Regions from separate parts of the Homo sapiens genome. Here region 1 is linked to region 2. The links come from fine-mapping of genetic effects on gene expression. A gene starts in region 2. The other region holds a variant in brackets. All regions are shown on one strand. Distances are between the middles of the regions. Region 1 overlaps PHACTR1 (phosphatase and actin regulator 1). Region 2 holds the start of PHACTR1 (phosphatase and actin regulator 1).

Evidence for each region. PIP is the estimated chance that this variant, and not a neighbour inherited with it, causes the effect.
Region 1: its variant is the best candidate, but not a certain one, in a credible set for the expression of PHACTR1 in whole blood (TOPMed, PIP 0.59).

What each region holds. Positions count from the first base shown.
Region 1 is chr6:13,196,851-13,201,247 of GRCh38, reverse strand. All of the region lies in intron 7 of PHACTR1 (phosphatase and actin regulator 1), which reads right to left. Among named protein-coding and RNA genes, the nearest start is that of TBC1D7, 130 kb to the left of the region's middle. The variant A/G (reference allele first, on the strand shown) is at 2,336.
Region 2 is chr6:12,715,046-12,719,442 of GRCh38, reverse strand. PHACTR1 (phosphatase and actin regulator 1) reads right to left here and starts at 2,676. Exons shown (of 15, transcript NM_030948.6): 1 at 2,547-2,676; 2 at 1,700-1,934; 3 at 596-744. The coding sequence starts at 698. All of the region lies in intron 1 of LOC107984015 (a long non-coding RNA gene), which reads left to right.

The sequences.
Region 1 (4,397 bases), 480 kb before region 2:
CTACAACCCTGGTGGTCAGCAGCGCCAGTGAATTTGGCTCTGTTTTGTGCTGGTTACTGCTGGCTCCATTTGGGTCAGCCCTGTCTTCCCAGCTAGTTCCTGGATGGCTCCTCCTACATGTGCTGCAGCAGGACTCTGAGGCTGGGCAATGATGGAACGTGCTCACTGCCCTGTGGTCCTCAGGACCAGGACTGGGGGTGCATCAGAATCACAATGATGCTCATTCCTCTTCTCAGGGATTCTAGGTTGGGTTCCAGCATTATATTTCTTTCTTTTTTTAATTTTTTTCTTTTTTTTTTTTTTTGAGACAGAGTTTCGCTCTTGTTGCCCAGGCAAGAGTGCAATGGTGTAACCTCAGCTCACTGCAACCTCCCGCTCCCGGGTTGTTCAAGTGATTTTCCTGCCTCAGCCTCCGAGTAGCTGGGACTACAGGTGTCCGCCATGATGCCTGGCTAATTTTTTTTTTTTTCATTTTTAGTAGAGATGGGGTTTCACCATGTTGGCCAGGCTGGTCTCAAACTCCTGACCTCAGGTGATCCACCCACCCCGGCCTCCCAAAGTGGGTGGCCACCCAGTGCTGGCCACCTGGCCCAGCATTGCATTTGTAAAAAGCCACAGTCAAAAATAACTCTTGGCCTCTTACTTTTGTCCTTTTCTCTGAACAAAAGGGCACTATTTCTTAGAGCAGAGTCCTTGGAACACCTGCAATAGTTGCCTGATGCAACTTCATGTTCCTGGGCTTTACTTTGGACCTGCTGAACCAGAATCTTTGGGCCAGACATTTGGATTTAAGATGCTTCCTGGCCGGGTGTGGTGGCACGTGCCTGTAATCCCAGCACTTTGACCCCGTCTCTACTAAAAATACAAAAATTAGCTGGGCGTGGTGGCACGTGCCTGCAATCCCAGCTACTCGGGAGGCTGAGGCAGGAGAATCGCTTGAACCCAGGAGGTGGAGGTTGCAGTGAGCCGAGATTGTGCCACTACACTCCAGTCTGGGTGACAGAGTGAGACTCCATCTCAAAAAAAAAAGATTCTTCCCAAATGCTCAGCATATACAAGGAGCTGAGAATCACTGGCTCAGGGTGCTAAATCGCTTGGTGTATGGTGCTGCCTGAGGCAGGGATACTGCAGCACTCAAGGCCAGGATGCATCAGTTCCATCCAGCATCTGGACCAATGTCCATCCTGGGGGGTCATTGGGATAATTTCCAGATTCTATTTCTATGCTCCCAACATGTAAAAAGTAAAAGAGCAATTTTCCCTAAACCAATTTATTAAAAGCTAATTTGCCTAAAATCTATTCACCTAATGATTATCTTGTCCACATTAGAATGTGCAATTAAAGGATACTTCTTAAACCAATTTGTCTAATGGCACTTCCAATTGAGTTTTATAAAAATCATTTGTCATTGAGCCTTTTGTAAATGATAAGATGTCTTATATCCTTGTGGGTGAATTTTTCTATTTTATTTCTATCTATAGAAATAAAATCTTTTATTCTATTTCTATCTATATCTTGTCTAAACTTTAAGGATGTTTTAGACAAGTTTGCATAAAGAGCCTTTCTTCAAAATTTTGTGTCAAGCAATAAGTACTTCATCAAACAATTAGCTTTTCCTACATAGTTGATTCAAAGCATTCAGGTTCTTCTGCCTTCTTGCTGATTTTTTATTTACCCTATGTGCACTCTGTAAATTTACTAAACAAACCAAGAAATATATATCTAGTACCCATTTCTGTTTAGTGAGGCGATTACATTTTTATAGTGAGGATGACAAAGGGAATTGGGTAGATCAGGCTTCTACTGCATGGCATCCACTTTTCAAGATGCCAATGTTTTTTTTTTTTTTTTTTTTTTTTTTTTTGAGATGGACTCTCACTTTGTCGCCCAGGCTGGAGTGCAGTGGTGTGATCTTGGCTCACTGCAACCTCCACCTCCCAGGTTCAAGCAATTCTGCTTTAGCCTCCCAAGTAGCTGGGATTATAGGTGCACGCCACCAAGCCCAGCTAATTTTTTGTATTTTTAGTAGAGATGGGGTTTCACCATGCTGGCCAAGCTGGTCTCAAACTCCTGACCTCGTGATCCACCTGCCTTGGCCTCCCAAAGTGCTGGGATTACAGGTGTGAGCCACTGCTCCCAGCAGCTAACTTCTTAAAGTAGTGTTTCCATCAGCCTCATTAGGGAAGCTTGGGAGAGGCAGATTCCCGGGCCTCACCTTCAGAGTTCAGATTCAATAAGTCCACAGTGGTGCCCAGGAATCTGCTTTGTAAACAAACTCCCAGATCACTCTGATCTACCTGGATGGAAATGACACCTGGTGCTGCAAGTTCTCATC[A/G]GGCAAAGAGGCACAAAATCATTACCAACATTTGTTGGTCTAAAAAGTATAAGATAAACTATAAAATCATGCACTGATTCAGTTCTGTTGGCTTCAGCAAATTGCTTAATCTCTTTGATGTTCAGTTTTCCAATCTGTGAAATAATGTGTTATGGCAAGGTTGTCCAACCGGCGGCCTGCATGCGACCCAGGACAGCTTTGAATGTGGCCCGACACAAAATGGTAAACTTTCTTAAAACATGACGGGATTTATGCACGGATCTTTTTCTTTTCTTTCGTTTTTTTTTTTTCACTCATCAGGTATCATTAGTATTTGTATATTTTATGTGTAGCCCAAGACAATTCTTCTTCTTCCAATGTGGGCCAGGGAAGCCAAAAGGTTGGACACCCCTGTGTTATAGGACAATTGTAAAATTAAATAAAGTACATAAACCGTGTGGCATAGCGTCTGACACTCCAGACACTCCAGACAGTTATTCCACAGAGAGTAACCATAATTCTTGATGCTATCACCATCCTCATTATTAATTGCCTCCTTTAGGAAGCCCATCATCCCGAGGCTGGCTGAGGCGCCTGCCCATGGGACCCCCAAGGCCTCGTGCTTCCCTGTGTCACAGCATTGCCTATTGAGTCAATTCAATCCCTTTCATTTTTCTTAACATGTTGCTGATTTTTCCTTGCAAGGGCTATGTGTGATGTAGTAATTATTAAATTTCACTGAGCGTGGCTATTTCCTCCTGTTTTACCTGCTAGAATGAACTAAGCCTAGTGCATAGTAGATACCCAATAAACGTTTGTTTATCTTTTCATCATGTCTTCAGGGCAACGGGAAAAGGTGGAACTCAGTGACTGGTTTCTGCTGTATTAAAGGTCTGCGAGTCAAAGTGTGGCCAATGGACTAGCAGGAGCCACATGGCCTGGGACCTTATCAGAAAGGCAGATGCTCAGGGCCCACCCCAGACCCTCTGGCAAGATCTCTAGGGGACGCTGATCTATCAAGTCTGAGAAGCACCCCTGAAAGAGGCATTCCTTTCCAAAGAGGCTACTCCCTCCATAGGCAAAATAACAAATGCCCAGAGCCTTGTGGAGGAGGAGATTATCCCAGCACTGCTCTGGGAGGGCTGGGAAGGAGGTGCAGAGGCTTCTGCTGTGGGCCGAGGGCAGAATGTCCTGGTGAAACCACCACTGGCTTAGAACTCAGAAGAATGATTCTAGATCCTTGAGGGATAGCATTAGGAGACATACCTAATGTAAATGACCAGTTAATGGGTGCAGCACACCAACATGGCACATGTATACATATGTAACAAACCTGCACATTGTGCACATGTACCCTAGAACTTAAGGTATAATAATAATAATAAAAAAAAAAGGAACTCAGAAGAGCTGGGGTTTAAGTACAGCTCCAAGACCAAGAAACTTTGTTACTCTTCCTAAGACATTTAGCTTTCCTGAGCCTCAGTTTTCTCATCTGTAGAAAGGGAGTATTGCCCAGAGTATAGATCTGTAATGAGAAGTAAATAGATTAATAACTACACAGCTCCATGCAAGGTGCTGAGGGGACCTTAGGGTTGAAATCTAGCCTGAGGCCTGCCCTGGTGTGGGGCTGATTCACTCTAGAGGAAGGGGCATCCTCTACAGGGCACTTTTTCTAATTTTACAAAGTCTCCATATAGGTCAGCAGAAGGCCTGAGTATAAAGTAGCCCCCGTACAGTCCTTGATGCATCAGAGGAGATCAGCAAATGTAGTCTTGATTCTGAGACAAACATCATAATACATTCCCCACCTCTGCCATAGGTTGTTTGGAGGGTCAGACAGGATCACGTGAACGTGCTTTGTAAATTGCAAAGTACCTTATATAGCTGCAGTGTTGCTAATAGGGCTTTCACCACACTTCTGAAAATCCACCTATCCTGATGCTTTCCAGCCTGGGGTGGGAAGGTAGAAGCCAAAAAAACAACAGAGAGTGTTTAATATGTGGTGGTACTATCATAAGTAAGCAGTGGAAAAGAGCAGAGGTGATTGGAAAGTGAATCAAGTAATAGAGCAGAGAGGCTTGCG
Region 2 (4,397 bases):
TAAATACCCCAACAGAAGGGCAAGAAAACTGGAACCTAACTGACCATCTTGAAACATGTAATAAAAACGGACACATCAACCACACTTCCCAAGAGGCTTGCTCCCTGAATGTACACTAGTAATTATCTGAGGCGGTAACTGAATTCAGCTAAAATAGAGAAGGCAGCTATAGAGAAGCTCAGCGCTTCTCTCAAGAGCCCCTAATCCTGCTGGATTCCAGTCCACTGGGTCATGATGCCCTAAGATTTCAAGAGCTGTGGCTGCAAACTGGAAATTCTCCAAGGGGAAGAGCATTCTTGATTCTTTTTGGACATAAGTGTTGGACACAGGTGGTAGGAAATCATTTCTAACATAGCTTTCTGAGGGGCACTTACACCAAAAGTTGGGCATTTTTTTAACCACATCCAAGAAGTGTGGATTTATTTATTCTATTATATACCTGCCTCAATTCCAGCAGCAGTTTGGTAGAGGTTATCAACTTAGAAATACCGGTTATTAAACTTTCAGAGCAAGGCTTTAACAGCTACAGCCTACATGGCTGTTCATATAAAACCGACGTGCAAATAAGAGGAATTTCTTTTTCTTATTTTATTACCTTGAGCTCCTTGACTGTAGAAGAATCTTTGAGCTGACTCAACATCCAAGAGTCTGTGAGCAGACTCTACATCCAGAAAATAATCCATTTTGGGATAATCCATCCTTGATGTTCCAAACACAGAGTTTTGAGAGAAAACACTGGAACACCTATAAAGAGGAAAAAAAAATCCACAATATTTTAGACGTCAAGTATAAAGTGTATATATAGATGTACTTTAAAATGTTTGAATAAGAATATCCCATTATAATATTCTACTACTTGATTGACATTTGCAATTCTAAAGCCACCCCCCAGCATAGCTTTCCTACCGTGTGAGAAAATGCCGCATTTAGCCAACATTCATTAAAAGTAATATATTCTACTCAGGAAAAACAGATGATCTGATCTAAAGAGAGATAACATACCAGCCTTTCCTTGCTTTATATTCTCTGGAACATATACTGTTAAATTCACATGCTATCAGTTTTCAAAAGGTCTATTTGATAAATAGCGTCATTAAGTGTCAGCCGTTGTGAGTGTTGATCCTCAGCTCATCCTGGGACTTTCGGATTCCCCTGGAGCAGGGAAAATTGCCTGGGAATCCGAGCCTCCACTCATAGATGCCGTGCGTTTATGACACACACTGACATATTTGCTGTACAAATGCTTTGAATTCCTTCCTTTCCGGCGATTCCCTTCAGCACATTTTATAAAGTGCTAGAGGATCGTCACCTGCCTGTGCCTGGCAGGGGCTGATTTTTGAGAAACAATTGTGGTTTGTAGAGCAGCAAGAATGATTGCAGCATTACAGTGATCCCTATATTATCATACACTAGCCTGTCACAAAGCTAATATACTTCCCCAGAAAACATTCAGCCTGTTGGGTTCTTTTTTCAAGCCTATGTAGCCTTTCCCTGATACTCACACAAATGAATTATCTCTATTTCTGCAGAATATTTTTTTGGAAAGAATTAACAAGACAAAGTCATTAAAACCAAGCTTGGAAGTCTAATCCAATTGGTTTCTCTTTCTAACAGTATGTATTTTAATTTAAGAAACCAAGTCCGGTAAGACAAAACTTTTAAAAATACCCAAAGGTACCCCAATAGCAAATATACTTACTGCAAAAAATAAAAATCAAAGGCTATCTGTCAGCGGTAAAACAAGAGCCGTTCCAGCCAGAGTGTCTTTGATCTTGCTAAATATTCCCGGTGAAAGTAAACGATTTTGATTGTTTGATTAGAACAGTGATGAATAATGCATACAGTCCACTGGACTTCCTTTATCAGATAAAATGGCCAGAGCACGTTACCTTAGCAACGGAAGGTGACGCCAGCCTCAGCCTCTGCACCCTCCCCTGCGAAGGGAGAAAATTACCAGTTTCCCGTGTAAAACTTTGGCAGAAAATCATCAAATCCACATGCATACATCATGCAGGGCTATTCCCCAGCCCCCTATCTCTTAGGCAGAGAAGTGCCATAGTCATTAAAAAAAAAACAAAACAGATTTATGTCTTCATTGTTTATTTTCATAATCCCAAATCTTAGTTTGATTTGCAGCTACAAAAGAATAGAATATGAAATGATTAAAAATTTAATATATAGAAAAGTTGTCTAGAAATTTTTGTGGGGGCACCAGTTATTACCCTAATGCTGGCCTAAGAGTGGCAGGGAATGGGGGAGTTTAGGGAAAGGCCATTTTAGCTTAACATACGTTAGACATTCCCCTGTTATAATTAATACACAGAACAGCCACCGGCATCTAGGCTGAAAATAACTCTTCCCTTCTGCAAATCAGTCACTGGAAGAAGCTTAAAAAGCTGTCTGAAATTTCCCAGATTCTGAAAGACATATTATAGCATAGATTTTGTGGGAGATCCCCACTCCCCCCACAACCCCCATCCCCGGCAAAGGAAAATTAGCCAAAAAGATATTTGAAAGGAAGAGTCTGGAAGTTAGCGGATACTCACCGGCACTTGTTGACCCCTTTCAACAGGACACGGTAGAGTACAAAACAAAGCAGTGCGACGCTTCTGAGCCCGCAAGCACAAATGAACAGCTTCTAATTTTCCCTTCAATCTCGCTTCAAGAGCACTGAGCAGAGGGAAGTGATGGATTTGCCCATTTATACTGTGATGAAATGCAACCCTTAAGAAGAGATCTGAGTGGAGCTGCTCTTTAGAACACATTAGACTGCTAATTTAAGAAAATTGAAAGGTTTTGTTTTACTGTCTTTTATGTGTTCTTCTCTGCTACCCCCTCAATTTAATTTGCATTTAAAATTATTCTCATGTCTCCTCAGCTCTCCAAGGTGTGGAGTACTTTCTAATCATGAAGGCTGCTCCAGTAGGGTTTGGTGCAACACCACTTTTATGCTGAGCTGCAAAACAAGGCAGGTAGTCATAATTGTGAGCTGTTTTCTGGAGCGAAATACAGAGGGCACGTTTGATGTCACCCCTTCCCTCTTGCCTGGCTTTCTTCCTTTCCTTGCTTCTGATTGCCTGGTCAAATATCCAGCGCAGATCATGCCAGTCTGCCTAAATGCATTTCTCTCTGTCTGAATGTAACAAAATAATACCAACAACAAAAATAAACTTTGGCTAGTATCTCAAGTTATTCTGGTTTAATATTCTTCCTACCAAACCTCAGTAATGACTTTTAGGCACAGTACTTTGAGATCTTCATGCAGGGCATAGTGATAGCCAAATGCAAGCCCTACTGTGGGTTTTCCACAACCTCTTGCACCCTTTGTTGACCAAGCAGAATTGCTCATTAGTATGGTGTGGTGTACAGTGGGTCAGCTTGTTAAGAAAAGAGCATTTACATTTGATAAGCCTCGGAAGGAAGACCATCAACACCACCCCTGTCCCCCCACTCCCTATACACAGCTCGGCTGGCTGCCCTTGAAACAAACCTGAAAATCCTCTGCTGTTTGTTTTGTGGGGTCTCCCTCTCCCACCCGATCAGAACAGATCAGACACCAAGCCGGTGCTGCAGACAGTTAAGCCTCATGAAAAAGGAAGCTGAAACTACCAATCATATGCCCTTGTAGGAAAGTCAACTATGGACTCTGAATTCTGAAAGCTTTGCTCCAACCCAAGGACTGACTTCTTTAAGGTTACTTTTCTATTCAGCACCCACTGGAGACATGCTGAACACTTGACATTTATAAGAGGAGAAAGCTGTCTTCTGGTTCCTTTTACTTACTGTGAGGTGTGGGCGACAGGTTCTGAACTCGTTATTGTAATTCTACTGAAATTGTAATGACTCATAGATGAGAGAAAGAGAGAGAGAGAGAGTATAAGTCTATGCTGCTGACCAAACCTTTAGGTGAGTGCAAATGAATGTGTGATTGAAGAAAGAGATGCTAAACTGGAAATGTGAAAAATAGAGTTGATTCCCAGGGGGTAGGTGGTGGATTTGGAAGTCAGTCATTTCTGGAGAGTTGACCAAGAAAGAGAAATTTAAAATACTTTACAAAGTGAACAAATAATATGAAAGGGTCGTAATTTAAGAAAACTCAGGAGGGAAAATTTCAACTTAAAGAAATGTATTTGGGGCCGGGCACAGAGGCTCATGTCTGTAATCCCAGCACTATGGGAAGTCAAGGTGGGTGGATCACCTGAGGTTAGGAGTTCAAGACCAGCCTGGCCAACATGGTGAAACCCCATCTCTACTAAAAATATAAAAAATTAGCCAGGCATGGTGTTGGGTACCTGTAATTCCAGCTACTTGGGAGGCTGAACAGGAGAATCGCTTGAACCTGGGAGGTGGAGGTTGCAGTGAGCTGAGATCATGCCATTGCACTCCAGCCTGGGTGA